2 separate regions of the Homo sapiens genome follow, and region 2 is linked to region 1. Evidence: fine-mapped expression QTL. Tissue or cell type: whole blood. Region 1 holds a variant in brackets; the other region holds the start of a gene. All regions are shown on one strand. Distances are between the middles of the regions.

Region 1 (8,104 bases):
AATATTATTTATTTGGTGGACAGGAAATGTGTAGATAGAATAATGGTGCTCAGACTCTGAATCCACATAACAGTTTCATCAACCATTTGATGGTGCTCCCCTCAATGATAAAAATAAACAATAAACTTTTTATTGACACTTACAGAATGAAGCTCGACTGAGAATTGTAAAAACTCTTGAAGACATTGATCTGGGCCCTACTGAAAAATGTGTGAGAGTCAACTCAGTTTCCAGTGGTCTGGCGGAAGAAGACCTAGAGACCCTTTTGCAATCCCGGGTCCTTCCTTCCAGCCTGATGCTACCAAAGGTGGAAAGTCCTGAAGAAATCCAGTGGGTGAGTAGCTAATGCTTTGCCTTAAGACTCAGGAGCAGCTAAGGAGGAGTAGCAGGAAGAAGGGATCTGGGTGCCACAGGTTTGGAAAATGCATGCAGAGAGCAGAGAGGAAGGGAATTGAGAAAAAGCAGTAAGCTCAAGTATCCGTTTCTTTTACACAAGGAAAACTCGCCTTTGCCCAAAGTGTTCTATGAAACAACTGCACTTTTGAAATGATGCTTCGCTTCCTAATTGGATGTGTGGTTTGGCCAGAACAGCCTCCTCAGTAGCCCTCCCAGAGTAATCCCTGGAAACTAGGTTGCCCGAGAATCTCATCCCTTCCTCCACCCTGCCCGGCCCTAAGCCAAGGCCTCCACCTGGAAGAGCAGTGACGTAAATGGCCCTTACTGAGATTCATCTGAAATCATCCCAGGCAGGGAGGGCACATTTGCCGCATATGAAAAAATGAACCCAAAGAAGGGGAGGAAAAGGTCACTCTTTAGGGCAACTGGAGGAATGAACAGGAAGCTTTTAACTAGTGGTTTCAATTAGCACTGATATTATTTCCTGAACAGTTCTCTAGTGCATCCTTTTTAAATTGCTGACAGGTGTGTTTGTGTTTCATGACAGACTTTTCAGCCAATAAAAACCTGAAATGTAAAGTGGTTGGCATGTCAAATTACTTAAGAAAACTTTTGAAATAGGCCTAATTACACTATGATTGTTTTAATTGACAAAGGGTGGAGGGGCTAGATTTTATTTGAGGGTCGCTATTATTCTGCAGATCTCTACTGAATAAAATAACATTTCACTGTGTTGTTCTGGGACAGAAAATGTGTCATTCTGGGCCCTGTGAGGTGTGAAAACTGGAAGCGTTTGTGGTCGGGGCGAGTGGGCAGTGGTGGTTTCATGGAAGCCACATCTAGTATTATCTCTGAGGCTGTGGCTGCCACCACAGCAATACCCTGAGTTGTTGTAACACCTACGAAACTGCTCACCTGCTGAATGCACCCGATGTGTGAGGTCTGCGTTGCCCAGTGCCACGGCCACTATGACATGTGGCTTCTGAGCATTGAAACGTGGCCAGCACAAATGGAGATGTGCTGGAAGTGCAAAATACACACTCGATTTTGAAGACTCGGGACTCACTGAGGGGACAAAAAGAGAATGTAAACTATCTCGATAATTTTTATATTGATTACACATTGAAATAATATTTGGGATCTATTGGGCTAAATACAAGATACTATTAAAATTAAATTCACCTGTTTCAGTTTACCCTCAATGTAGCTACGAGATAATTTAAAATTATTATATGTAGCTGCTGCTATACAGTTTCTTTTGGACAGCTCTGTGTTGGATCCTTCTTGAAGACCCGTATTCAAGGACCAGTTATTTATTGACTAAGCTGGAGTTCTTCTCTCCAGGGTTACCCTCAGAAGCTGGGAGATACTAGTTAAGAGTATGTTAATATCCTGGAGGGTCCTGAGCCCATTCAGATATGTCTTAAGTTGATTGAAATGGACTCTGAAGTCACTGTTCCCTTTTGGTTTCATAGTTAATGCCTATTTATCACCGTTATTACCTTTAACTTAAGATGGGGGAGGGGGAGACCCAGCCAGCCTTCCGCTATGGCTTCTGTTCACTGTTTTAAATCCTTGGAAGTGAGACACATACAGAAATTTAAATAGAACTTCTAGTTAACAGAAGTCCTTTTGGCTGTTTATTTTTTCCTCTCCGTTTGTATTTATGCGAAGCATAAAACCCAGAGCCTGATGCACAACTGAAAGATGGGCTTACTTGTTTTCTTTTGTGTGAGAATCTCTTGCTCGCCTTTTGTCGCTAGTGTGGGTTCTTGTTTGACTGGCACGGCTTATTGGACTATAACAAGCGTAACCCTGCCTCCTTTGTCATGGGACAATTCTCCCACAAATCCCGAACAGTGTGCATTCTTCCAACACACTATTGGGTGTGCACTGGAATTGAAAGAATCGCTGAGCCCTGCTACTTCATCTCCTCCCCAATCTCTTTGTGATTTCTCCCCCTTCTTCTCCTCCCCCTACCCCAGTCCCCTCCACCTCGCTGAAATGAACACTTTACCAGGCCGGAAACATTTAATCGTCTCCTTTTGAAAAAATTAATTGAAACTTCTCCACTAGTTACCTTTTGTGTTAGTACTTAGTGCAATTTTTTAAGAAAGAGGGGGAGGAGGAGGAGGAGGAGGATGGGCTAGAATATTTAATTTTTAAATGCCCCTATTGGCTTAAAAACAAAAGGCATTGGGGTGTTCTCACTAAGAACAGGGAATATATTGTAAAGTGTTGACTTGGTTTTAAAGTCCATGATTTTTGTAGTTATAACTGTCATCACAAAGAATGGGGCAAGTCACTTCACAAGTTTTCTTTTTTAATGAGAAAAAATATCCCTACTACATTTTTAACACCAAAACCACTAATACTGTGCTACCACTTTCTAGCATAAATGAGAAATAAATTATATTTTATTTTCATCTACATCAAATACTATACATTTTATCCCCTTAAATTGTCACCCCCTGCTCCTTCTTGCTATTTTGGTTGAGTTATTCCTTCCCTTGAAAAGTTACTAAGGAGGTGATGATGATGCCCTTTGAAGGGGGGGCAGTGGGAGCAACTGGGAATAATTCTTCATTACTGAAAGCTGTGATTTATTTTAGCCTAATTGTAAAGTTACTGCAAATTGCTCAAAAGCTTTTTAAAGATCCCAGTGATTAGATTTTTTAGGGGGGTGGTGCACCGGCAAGGAGGGGGCAGCTAGAAGGGGAAATAACACCTCTAATCCCGCTTCTGGTAAATAGGCTGCCAGCTTTTCAAATGAGTTTCCTTTCTATTAGTCAGAATATTATGCTAAGCCTTAAGCATTAGTTTTTTTATGTTGCCATAGCAGCCTTATTCCTGCAGGGTGGTGACCTGTGATGATTACAGTACAAAGCTTATAGGGTCTTGAAACCCCCTTTGAAGATGAAAAGTCTTTGATGGTTTATATTTATGCAAATCTCTTAGATATGATTTACCCAACTGAGACTGAATGGAGAGATGATTAAAATTCCCTTTTCCTTTGATATCTATTAATGGCTGAATATTCCTTAAATTTAAAATGGATATATATGTTTTCATCTTTATTTACAAAAATACCTTTATCATACCTGTGTTTCTTCTCTATCTATCTCCCCACATCTTATTAGATCTAGATAGACATAATAGATTTACAATTTAGAGTGTGTTTTTTTCCCCCTTTTGAAGAGGGGGAGGAATCTGGGCAAGAGCTTTTGTATGTTTCCAGATGATAGATTTTGGAATTTGGGCTACCCCACTGGCAGCACAGAGCTAGCTGTGAACTGGTCTCATGGAAAAAATTGGCGAGCTTTGGTCTTCAAAGAATTAAACTTCCTTTTTAAGGTCTTCCTAGGTAAGC[T/TA]AAAAAATTATGAAGAAAAACCTTCTGAACAAAGGGTAATGGTGCTATAATGAATAATATGGACTCCACGTAGAAGGCTGCTGAACAGTTGCACTGATGTCAGTGCTGGGCACGAAACAAAAACAGAATGGCAGGTAGAGGAAGAGTTCATTGTTTTAAGGGCCTACCATTTGCATTTAACGAAGCGAGGGCAAGAGGTCTTAAGTAAATGCGTTTTCAGGGAAAGCGTTTATACTCTCTCCTTCCAGTTCTAACTCCTAGGCCTCAAGTTGCTCCTTTGGGAGAAAAAAATTGTAATGCTTAGGATTTTACTATTTAGTTTGGTGGGAACTTCATTACCTTTTTCTTTGGACTTTCTTCTTATTTTTTTAAAAAAATTCTTTTGTGTGGACGAAAGAGGCTTGGATATTACTTCCTCAGGTCAAAGACTTAAATACTACTTCTGGGTCTACATTTCCGTGATTGTACATTTTTTCCCCACTAATCACCTATGACACTTCTGATTTTAGTTTGCAGACAAATTTTCATTCCACTTAAAAGGCCGAAAACTTGAACAACCAATGAATTTAATCCCTTTTGTGGAAACTGCAATGGGTTTGCTCAATTTTAAGGTAAGGAAGCCATAATACGGTTAATAAGTTAGCATTTTATTTATCACCTAAAGAGAACTTTTGCTTTCAATTTTAACATCTTCTTAAAATGTGTTTCTAGAAAGATTTATAAGCAAAGGAAATGTTGAGCACCATTTGTTATCTGTAATAGTCCAAAAACCAGGTTGCCAGCATCTTAGAAAACAATGAAATCAGTTAGGTAGAAGGAAAAGCTTCCCAGTCCAAAATATTTAAATGAAGCATTTGTATATTCCTAGTAACAATTTTAACTAATCACTGTGTAATTATATGCTTTGAATTATTGCATTTATAGACTAAATGTACATGAAAATTTGTCACCCTTATGAATTAACTTTGAAATGTTCTTTTCTATCAAATGTCTTTTCAGTGGGAAATGTTCTGCCCTCTCTGTAGCAACATTATCAGTAATGTCTAGCAGAGAAGATTATTGTTTGTAAGTTCATGCACACAAATAATTTGCAGTACAGTTTTTCAGTTTGCCACATTAGAATATCTTCTAATATACATGCGGGAATATTGGCTGAGCCAAGTGTTTTCAGCCGTTGTGTGGTTGCACTAAACTACCGGTCTTAACAAATTCAGAGCTAGCTCGTTTTTTCTCGTTTATCAGGGGGCATTTATATTATTTTCCAAAATATGCCTCTCATTCCACCTGACCTGCGAACATCAATCTAGCACCCCCTTTCAGAGTTCCTAGATTCCCTTCCCCCACCCCAGCCCCCACAGAGGGCAGGAGAAAAGAAATCACTAAAAACAACAGAAAAAACATAGTCGAACTGTACTGGAGAGAGAATGTGTGAGCGGCAACTTTGAGGCCTTGGGATGTGCAGAAGGGGTCGAGTGCAAATGTTTGGGGACCTGCTTCAAACCTTGTCCTGTGAGCAGCTTGTTTACACAACTAACCATACATTCTTCCAGCCAGCCCCAGAATCCTGAGAATATAATCAAAAGCATATCCCTAAGATGCAACCAGATTCATCCAGTGATTTAATTTTAAGCACTGCTTCGCCATTTTATTCCATAATGTACTTAGAAGCACTTACAATGTCTGAAATTAATCAACAGTGTCCCCACCGGTTCCTCGTTTCTTTCCCACCCACGTATATTATTAGCAGGTTATATCTCCACCTTTCAAGATTCACGGTTATGTCTACGACGAATGGTATTTGCCTTGACTTTCATATATAAATGTCGAAGTTGCTTTATGAACACATCTTGGATGACTTGTTGCATTTTTATTTTCCCCTCCGGAGTTGCAGGTTTTTGTGCTGTCTTTAATCCTGAGACCATGTGCTTGATCCTAATGCAAATAATTCAATTAGTTTGATTTTAAAATTCCTTCCTTCTCCCCTGTGGTTTTACGAGAGTCTCTTAAAGCAAAAACGAATTCTGGAAAGATATAAATAACTTATAGTGCAAGCAAAATGAGTTAACTCAAAGTTTCTCCAAAAATGAGATGAACTACAATTTGAACATTATAACTATATTCATATAATCCATTAAACAAAGCAAATATATACAATATACTTATCTTGGATGATATTAAATACCTTTTGAAAGGGGTAAATTTGGGCTGCGTTTTTAGGACTGCTTTCAGCCAAACTGTGTTAAGAGTCAGGTCGTCCTGTTACTGAAATGCACCGTGCCTCTTCCCTCTGACGCACGCGTTTCCGTGAGACTTAGTTCTGTTCTGCTCTTTTACAGGCAGTGTGTGAAGAAACCCTGAAGGTCGGGCCTCAAGTAGGTCTCTTTCTAGATGCAGTCGTTTTTGGAGGAGAAGACTTTCGAGCCAGCATAGGTGTCAAAGACATCTCTCTCTCTCTTTTTCTGTGTGTGTGTGTGTATATGTGTGTATATATTTTTTCTTTGCCCCTCAAGGATGGACATTTACATAACAATGTATATTTGCCAACCATGACAATGGTTTTTCATGACAATGGAATGGACACTACTTCCTGATAATTTAGGGCTCCTCATAGCTGCCCTGCTTCTAGAGCACTGCATTATTACTTCTGTTCATTTATAAAAGACACGAGCAATAGAAAGCCTGTTGCAGCCCCAGGCATGCTCAGGAATATATGGCATCTCCTTTGCTCCTAATAAATATATTATGTGAACAGCCTCACCGTTGCTTCAGTATTTTGTTTTCATATCAGTCTGTGGGCTGTCTAGATTTCTAACGCAAATTTAAGGCAATTTCACATTTGCCTTAATGAATTGTTTTCTACAGAATATGCGGTAGGTAAATATTATTTTAAATGGATCTTAAATTTCTCTTACAATATGTTTCGAACTCTTAGTATTAAATGTGCTGATTTTCACCGATTCTCACCATCCCTTGTGAGCTGCACTTGAGGGGTCTGCATGTTTGACTGGAGACCGTGAAGCATTTAGAAAAGAGGCCGAGGCCACAGAAACCAGCCCCAGTGACCTGAAGACAGGCACTTTCCCTAGGCAGGGAGTGGCATGTTCCAAATGTAAACAGGGACACTTCCCTCCCCTCAGGGTGAAAAAACTGAATTTATTTGAATACGAGTCTTTCCAGGAGACTTGTGTATCCAACGGTTCAGCGGGCTACAGAAGGCATATCGATGCTTTCCAGCCCTCTCAAAACAAGTGCCCTCCCGTCTCCCCAAGTTCTCCATCCAGACAGACCCTGAAGCTGAAGCATTTGGCTCAGAACTTCAGTTTGGACAGGGCAATCGCAGCACACACAGTTCTGTGCTTGCTGTGAAACACGAACCATTGCCCTGCATAGCTGCTGGGCCACCCTTTGTGGTGCTGTCTTTGGACTGGCACTTTTCAAGCGATGATAAGAAGGAAAAAAATATATCAGGAGTCCCTTGCGACCCTGACCCAGCCTCCCAGAATGGGGAAGGGGCCTTCTCTTAATGCAGGTAGAAGTAATTCTATTGAAAGATGCCTTGTCAGTTAAACAGACACATTCGAGGTTTAACTTGGCCTCCACGCGTCCCTGTCTTCATTTGTATTTCAATAATTTTATTTTGCGGAGGAGCAATTTCCAGGGAGGTTTAGATATCTGTACAAACTGAGGTTTTATAATAAATATCTGGGTGCGGTTTCCAAAGTTAAAGCCTCCTTTTTCTGTTAACATCCCATTTTCAGGTGCAACAAGTAGTAAAGAAACCCTGGATATTCTCTACGCCCGGCAAAAGATTGTTGTCATAGCGAAAGCCTTTGGTCTCCAAGCCATAGATCTGGTGTACATTGACTTTCGAGATGGAGCTGGGCTGCTTAGACAGTCACGAGAAGGAGCCGCCATGGGCTTCACTGGTATGATTCCTGTCTTAGAAAGCAGTGTCTAAATTAGCAAGCATTCCAGAAAAATAGAAATTTGACCCGAAAACACCCCTAATCTCATCAGATATCTCCCATACTTACTCCACTATTTGAAATATGAGCAAGTCACACAGGGGAAGAACTTGCCAGACACATTGTCATGGTTTTCCTTGGCCCTGCAAGTCAACAAATCACTCATTTTATTTCCTCTTTATATTAGTTGCTTTTTTTTTTTTCTCTCCATCCTCTTAATCATTTTGTTGTAGTCTTGGCTGACCTGTAGGGAGGGATGAGGCTGCTCAAAAAGTGTTTTTGAGTGAACCGCCATAAGAATTTTGGTTGATGGACAGAAGAAAAATCTCCTAGAATATCCAAAATTTAATTCATTTCTGAAAAAAAATGTTGG
Region 2 (8,104 bases), 260 kb before region 1:
CTATTCTTCCAGACTGCTCAACTCAACAGGATAGTGAATCTCGGAATTATTCACCCTACTAAATTTCATATGCTCTCTTGATGCACTTGGAAAATTGATACTTTTCTTTTCAGTTTTGGAAGCTGTGAGTAAAGATAGACTTGACTGTCCTAAAGGAGGAACTCTGAATCCCTTTCTCTATTATATTTGGAAATATGTTGATATGGTTTGGCTGTGTCCCCATCCAAAATCTCATCTTGAATTGAAATCCTCCAAATCCCCACGTGTCAAGGGAGAGACCAGGTGGAGGTCACTGAGTCACGGGGGCAGTTTCCCCCATGCTGTTCTCGAGATCGGAGATTGGAGAACTCACTCGTGAGTTTGGTAGTTCCTTCTGTGTTCATTCTCCTTCCTGCCATCTTGAGAAGAAGGTGCCTTGTTTCCCCTTCACGTTCCGTCATGATTATAAGTTTCCTGTGGCTTCCCCAGCTATGCTGAACTGTGAGTCAATTAAAGCTCTTTCCTTTATAAATTACCCAGCTTCGGTCAGTTCTTTATAGCAATGTGAAAACGGACTAATACACGTGTCCTCCAGACACCCACATACTATGTAGATAAAGTTAATAAAACTTTATTTTAACATGTACTAGCATTAGGAAACAGTTAGTTGTTAACCTACCTACTGATTAGCAAAATGCATGAGTCAGTAATCTTGTGAAGAAACTCAACAACCCCCTACCATTGCTGGTGAGAATGGGCACAGCTACAATTTCTTCTAGGAGAATCTGAAATTGAACCAATTAGCAAATAAGACATAGTAGGACCTACTTTAGATCCAAGGCATTTTAAATAAGGATAACTAGTTATACAGCAGTTTTCAACTGTAATGAGGCTGGTAGAACATTTTCATCATATATACATTTTGTTTTGTTTTGTTTTGTTTGAGATGGAGTCTTGCTCTGTCACCCAGGCTGGAGTGCAGTGGCATGATCTCAGCTCACTGCAACCTCCACCTCCCAGGTTCAAGCAATTCTCCTGTCTCAGCCTCCCGAGTAGCTGGGACTACAGGCGCACACCACCATACCCGGCTAATTTTTGTATTTTTAATAGAGACAGGGCTTTACCATGTTGGCCAGGCTGGTCTCGAACTCCTGACCTCAGGTGATCCGCCCGCCTCGGCCTCCAAATGTGCTGGGATTATAGGCGTGAGCCACCATCTTATATGTATTGAATACCTGCCGGGTATAAATCACTGAGCCAGGTGCTGGGGGCACAGCAGCGACAAGACATATAAGGTCCCTGCTCTCAAAGAAGTTATGCTCTCATCCTACAGAAGGTGTTTCTAAGTCAAGACACCAAGAGCCTTTCTCCCAAGGTGGCTACCCAGCACATCACTAGCCCTGCCCCCTAAACAACAATACTGCATCCCAAAGCCCACCTGATAGATGGTTAGTCATCCCATCCCACCCCACCCTCTGAGAACTGCTGGGGAAAGGCACAATAAAGAAGTATTAGGTCGGTGCAAAAGTAATTGTGGGTTTTGCCATTATTTTCAATTCTGTAAGTTTTTTGAGAGCAGGGACCTTGTATGTCTTGTCACTGCTGTGCTCCCAGCACCTGGCTCAGTGAATCCTACCTGGCAGGTATTCAATACATATAAGATGAAATTGTTCTTGCCATTACTTTGAATGGCAAAAACCGCAATTACTTTGGCATGAACCTAATAAATTCACAAACTCATATATCGACATTGTGGTGGAGATGACCAGGCACTGTGACAGTGAAATAGATGTGGGGGCGCCGTTGGGGATCTTTAGGTTATTAGCACAGGCCCCTGTGAGGAGGTGGCACGTAGGCTGAAGGTCCTGGAGGATGAGCAGGTGTAGCCATGAGCATTCTGGGGATGAGGAACGGCATGTGTGAAGGCCCCACGGTGGGAGAGAGCCTCGTGGACTTAGAAAACACAGACAGAAGATGAGTGGGGCTGGAGATAAATTGGAGAGGCTGGCAGGGGCCAGACCGTGTGAGGCTTTAAGGGTCATGGGGAAGAACTCGGATTTTATTCTAAAGCCACTAAAGGGTTTTAAGAAGGGAAGCGATGCAATGACAATAATAATGAGGAATAGTTAACACTACTGAGAACTTGCTTAGATTTTAAGTGTGCAGTCTCTCTCTATGTATATGTAAACTCAGTCTATCATTATAACAAGCCTATGAGGTGATGAGGTATTTATACCCCCATTTTATAGATGAGGAAACAGAGAGCTTAAGAAACTTGACCAAAGTCACACAGCAAGTCAACTCTGGAACTAGGAGCTGCGTCATGCTTTTAAAAGGTCAGCCAGGTTTTATGGCAAACGGGTGATTGTAGGAGGGAAGAATGGGAGCAAGGAGGCTTTGAAATAATCCAGGTAAAGGATGATGATGTCCAGAATCAGACTTGAGTGAGGTGAGTGCAGCCCCAGCCTGGGATGCAAAATTTAAGGAGAAGTCTCAGTAATTACTGCACTCCAGCCTGGGCGACAGAGCGAGACTCCATCTCAGAAAAAAAAAAAAAAAAAAAGATAAGTAATATTGGCCTGGCATGGTGGCTCATGCCTGTAAGCCCAGCACTTTGGGAGGCTGACGCGGATGGATCACTTGAGGCCACGAGTTCGAGACCAGCCTAGCCAACATGGTGAAACCCTATCTCTACTAAAAATACAAAACAATTAGTTGGAAGTGGTGGCACTTGCCTGTAGTCCCAGCTACTCAGGAGGCTGAGGGGTGAGAATCACTCAAGCCTAGGAGGTGGAGGTTACAGTGTGTGAGCTGAGATCGTGCCACTGCACTACAGCCTGGGCGACAGAGCAAGACTGTCTCAAAAAAAAAAAAAAAGTAATATTCTAAACTAAAAACCAAGATAATGGAAAAATCCCATTATGAACAAAATATCAAAATTTTAATTAAAGACAGGATTGGTGTTACTGAAATTGCCTTTGCCTCAGGCTTCAGTATGGCTGGACCGGGCACTGGCTGGGACTAAGGTGGTGACAAGAAAGTGACCAAATTGGAGTAGACAGGCGAGGCCTGAGGTGGAGCAGGCGTGGGAGCTGGGGGAGGGCACCAAGGGGTTGAGCAGTCTCCCCTGTTGGTATCGAATATAACAATAATTCTTAGGCTCAGCAGAAGTTTAGCATCCATGTTCCCAGTCACCTGGACTTTTCCAAATCTTGGAACCCCCTCTGGCTGAAAAGGCTTTTGTTTGTTTAAACGGCCACTTTTTGCATCCAAGAGCACAAGTCAGCTTCCACTGGAAGGTTCTGAGAAACGGTTTCAGGTTTAAGTCTAGAGCATGAATGGAACGGAGTCACAGCTGAAAAAGAAACATGCCGAGTGCCAAGGAAAAGACATGGTTAAGGGGTAACATGGGCCCGGGTAGGTGAAGGTCGGCAGGTGGAGGCCGGCTGGATCAGGGAAGGTGAAAGAAGAGGCAGGGGCAGGGCCCAGCCTGTTTTAACGCCTCGGCGTTCTCACCGCTGCAGAACGGCTGCAGGGGGCAGAGTAAAGAGCTGCTGTCAGTTTCCCTGCCCAGAGAGTGCCAACAGCTGCTCTGACCTATTGCAGGCATGTGTGTTCCAGGATGCAGCCTTCCTGCACTTTGACCACTCTAGATTAATTGCTAACCAAGATATGCACATGATGGGGCTCACAAAGTATTAGGCGGTATTTTAACAACAAAAGCTGCGAAGAAATCCCTAGAAATGTTGGCTCTTCTGGCTGGGAAAACGCAGTCTGTCAACAGTTGCCTCAAAAACTCAGAAGCTCAGAGAGTTGGATTCGGTCACCAGAGAGGCCCCTCAAAGAGGCCCCAACCATTCAGATCCTCTGCTCTGTCCCCCATGACAGCGGGGACGAAGGTCCTAAGCCCTGGCCGGGAGGGCAGTTGACCTCGGGACTCGCCGCGGGGCGGAGCGGGTGCTGGGAGGAAGGAGGGCGTGGCTGGCGGGGTGTGGCTGGCGGGACGGGGCGGGGCGAAGACAGAGCGAGGCGGGGCCTGGGACGGGGGGGGGGTCGGTGTCGCCGTGGGGGCGTGGAATGTGGGGTGGGCGTGGCTAAAGGCAAAGGGCGGGGCGCGCGCGTCGGGAAGATGGCGCTACGTCTGCTGCGGAGGGCGGCGCGCGGAGCTGCGGCGGCGGCGCTGCTGAGGCTGTGAGTGCAGGTCCCCGTTCCCCGCCTTCCCGGCCCGGCTCGCCGCGGGTCGGCTCCTGTTGCAGCCCCGCGGGCCGGGCGCGGCCTCCCCAAGCCCTCACGGGAACCCAGCCGGACGGAAGCACCATGCGCCTCCCACGCGCTGGCTCGACCTCGTCCAAGGTCGCTGCCGCCCGCGCCTCCCTTTGGGAGGGCCCTCGTTGCACCCGGAAAATGGGTACACACCTTAGGTCGAATTACCTGGACTCAGCCCCAGGAAACAAAACTGCCTGCCTCCCCCAAATGGCAAACGTGAACGCGCCAGTCTTTGAGAGGCGGCTTGCCTGGTGAAGAACACCTGCGGTTCGTTTAACACAGCGGTTCCCAAACGGTTTGGTCTCAGGACCCGTTTACACGTCTAAAAATAATTTGAGGACCCCCCAAAGCTTTTGCTTATATCTATTGATTTTTGTGCATGAGGAATTAAACCAGAAATTTAAAAAATATTCACTTAATAACAAACCCATTAACTTTTAATACAAATAACACTTTAATGCATAACTTCTCAAAAAAAAAGTGAGAAGATTGGCTCATGGTTTTTATATTTTTGAAAATTTCTTTGGTTTAATAAAGGACAGCTGGAGTCTCATATCAGCTGTTTTGAAGGAAATATTTGAAAGAAATTCTGGGCTCATGCAGATGCAGATATTAGTTGGGAAAGGGAGGACCAAGCAGACCCTCTCAACGGGTCTCAGGGACCCCCTCAGGTGTCTTTGGACCACACTTTGAGAACCGCTGGTCTAGCACTTGCCCATCGCCTAGGTACGTGCACATACATGGTCTCATTTGGTTCCCTTGACCACCATGTGAAGAAGTTGGGTGTCATGTTTATAAAGATGAAAAAACAGGGTCAGAAAGGTTAAGGATTCTCAAAGCCCTATGACCAGTAATGAGAGAGTTTGGTTCAAACACTAAGTGTATGGCTCCTGGTCTGGAACTTCTTTATTTATTTATTTTTATTTTTTGAGACAGAGTCTCGGTCTGTCACCTAGGCTGTAGTACAGTGGTGTAATCTCGGCTTACTGCAACCTCCACCTCCTGGGTTCAAGCGATTCTCATGCCTCAGCCTCCTGAGTGGCTGGCATTACAGGTGTGCACCACCACCCCTGGCTAATTTTTGTATTTTTAGTAGAGACAGAGTTTCGCCATGTTGGCCAGGCTGTTCTCGAACTCCTGACCTCAAGGGGGTCCACCCGGATCAGCCTCCCAAAGTGCTGGGATTACAGGCGTGAGCCACCATGGCCGGCCTGGTGGTCTGGAACTTCTTTTTTTTTTTTTTTTTTTTTTTTTCCGAGATGGAGTTTCGCTTTTGTCGCCCAGGCTGGAGTGCAATGGCGCCATCTCAGCTGACTGCAACCTCCGCCTCCCGGATTCAAGTGATTCTCCTGCCGCAGCCTCCGGAGTAGTTGGGATTACAGGGCGTCCGCCACCATGCCCGGCTAATTTTTGTATTTTTAATAGAGACGAGGTTTCACCATGTTGGCCAGGCTGGTCTGGAGCTCCTGACCTCGGGTGATCCACCTGCCTCGGCCTCCCAAAGTGTTGGGATTAAAGGCGTGAGCCACCGTGCCCGGCCTGGGTCTGAACTTCTTACGTCTTCTTGCACTGTGACTCTTCAGTCACCCATGTCCTATGGGAGGACCCACCTAGTCTTATGCATCCCACTTTCCCATTTCCTCCGCTGCCCCTGGCACAGGGGAGTCACCCCTCGCCCTAGAGGAGCAGCTCAGGCAGTGTATCCAGGCTGGTCCAGAAGGGTCCTTTTCTGGCGCCTTTTGAGGGGGCCAGCGTCTGTGACCTGTTCAGTAGCGGGTCCAGTGAGCGCACACAGTCCCCACGCCAGTACGCTGGGGGTTAACTCAGTGCTCCTCACCCGCCTTAGCACACTGGTCTGTTCTCGACATGTCTACCCGCTGAATATAGGATTCTTGATTGGCATTTTTTTTCCTTTGAGCATTTTAAAGCGTATTATCGCACTGTCTTTTTGCCTCCATTATTCTAATGAGAATTCAGACGTTAATGTTATTAGGGTTCTATGTAAGTGATGAGTCTTTTTTTTTTTTTTTTTTTTTTTTTTTTTGCTTGATTTTCTCTTTGTCTTGGTCTTTCGGTGGTTTTATTATGATGTGTGTAGATCTGTTTGAGTTTATCCTCTTGGAAGTTTATTGAGTTTCTTGGATGTGTATACATCAAATTTGGGAAGTTTTTGGCTATTGTTCTCTCAAAAAAGTCTACTCTCTTATCTCTCTCTTCTCTTTCGGAGGCTCCCATTGCGTATATGTTGGTGTAGTTGATGGAACCCCACAGGTCTTTGAGACTGTTCCATTTTCTTTCTGTTCCTCAGGCTGGACAATGTCAATTGACCTGTCTTTGTTTTTTTTTTTTTTTTTTTTTTTTTTGAGACAGAGTCTTGCTCTGTCACCAGGCTGGAGTTCAGTGGCGCAATTTCTGCCCACTGCAACCTCTGACTCCCGGGTTCAAGCGATTCTCCTGCTCCAGCTTCCCGAGTAGTTGGGATTACAGGCACGCGCCACCACGTCCAGCTAATTTTTGTATTTTTAGTAGAGACGGGGTTTCACCATGTTGGCCAGGATGGTCTCGATCTTCTGACCTCGTGATCCACCTGCCTTGGCCTCCCAAAGTGCTGGGATTACAGGTGTGAGCCACCGTGCCCAGCCGACCTGTTTTTAGGTTTGCTGATTGCTCCGTCTTCCAACTCAAATCATTTTCATTTTAATCCAGAACTTCTTTCTTTTTGGAGAATGAGTCTCACTCTGTCACCCAGGCTGGAGTGCAGTGGTGCAATCTGGGCTCACTACAACCTCTGCCTCCTGGGCTCAAGCTGTCCTCCCACCTCAGCCTCCCAAATAGCTGGGACTACAGGTGTGCACCACTGCACCTGGCTAATTGTTTCTATTCTTTTGTAGAAATCAGGTTTCGCCATGTTGCTCAGGCTGGTCTCGAACTTGGCTCAAGCAATCTGCCTGCCTCTGTCGCTCATAGTATTGGGATTACAGGCATGAGCCATCATGCCCGGCCCTTTTCTATACTTTCTATCTCTTCATTGATATTCTCTATGTACTGAAACATCGTTCTCATACTTTCCTTTAGTTCTTTTTTTCTTTCTTTCTCTTAGAGACGGAGTCTCCAGGCTGGAGTGCAGTGGTGAGATCGTAGCTCACTGCAGCCTGCAGCTCCTGGGCTCAAGTGATCCTCCTGCCTCAGCCTCCCCAGTAGCTGGGACTACAGGCACACACCACTATGCCCAGCTAATTTTTAAATTTTTTGAAGAGACAGAGTCTTGCAGTGTTGCCAAGGGTGGTCTTGAACTGCTGGGTTCAAATGATTTTCTTGCCTTGGCCTCCAAAGCAGTGGAATTCTAGGCATGAACGACTGCACCTGGACTCCTTCAGTTCTTTATGCATAGTTTCCTTTCGTTTTTTGAACATACTTTAAATAGATGATTTAATTAGTAAGTCCAACATCTGGACTTCCTCAGGGACAGTTTGTACTGACTACTTTTTTCCTGTGTGTATAGGTCATACTTTCTTTTCGTTGCATGTCTTGTATATTTTTTTGAAAACTGGACATTTTAAGTAATATAATGGGGCAACTCTGGAAATCAGATTTCTCCCTTTTGCCAGGGTTTATTGTTGTTGTTGTTTGCTTAGTGACTTTAATAAACTAATTCTGCATTGTATTCTTTGTCATGTGCAACCAGCGAGGTCTCTGCTTGGTTAGCTTAGTAGTCTAACAATTAGACAAAGGTTTCCTTAAATTCCTGGAACCAGTAAGTCTCCTAGTCTTTGCTGAGGGACTCTGTGTGTGTCAGGACATGTCTTCAACATTCAGCCACAGTTTGTCCTGCTTCCACAGAGACTGAAGGTTAGCTAGA

What was found. PIP is the estimated chance that this variant, and not a neighbour inherited with it, causes the effect.
Region 2: CLYBL starts here. The variant in region 1 is fine-mapped to the expression of CLYBL in whole blood (INTERVAL, PIP above 0.99).

Annotation. Positions count from the first base shown.
Region 1 is chr13:99,858,716-99,866,819 of GRCh38, forward strand. It overlaps CLYBL (citramalyl-CoA lyase), which reads left to right. Exons shown (of 9, transcript NM_206808.5): 3 at 146-334; 4 at 4,276-4,377; 5 at 6,103-6,196; 6 at 7,525-7,692. The region is part of intron 1 of CLYBL-AS3 (CLYBL antisense RNA 3); the gene reads right to left. Among named protein-coding and RNA genes, the nearest start is that of CLYBL-AS3, 94 kb to the right of the region's middle. The variant T/TA (reference allele first, on the strand shown) is at 3,767.
Region 2 is chr13:99,602,588-99,610,691 of GRCh38, forward strand. CLYBL (citramalyl-CoA lyase) reads left to right here and starts at 4,103. Exons shown (of 9, transcript NM_206808.5): 1 at 4,103-4,170. The coding sequence starts at 4,109. It overlaps LOC105370332 (a long non-coding RNA gene), which reads right to left and starts at 3,262. Exons shown (of 3, transcript XR_931674.3): 1 at 3,175-3,262; 2 at 659-764. RefSeq lists enhancers at 2,966-3,945, 3,868-4,162 and a silencer at 3,884-4,443.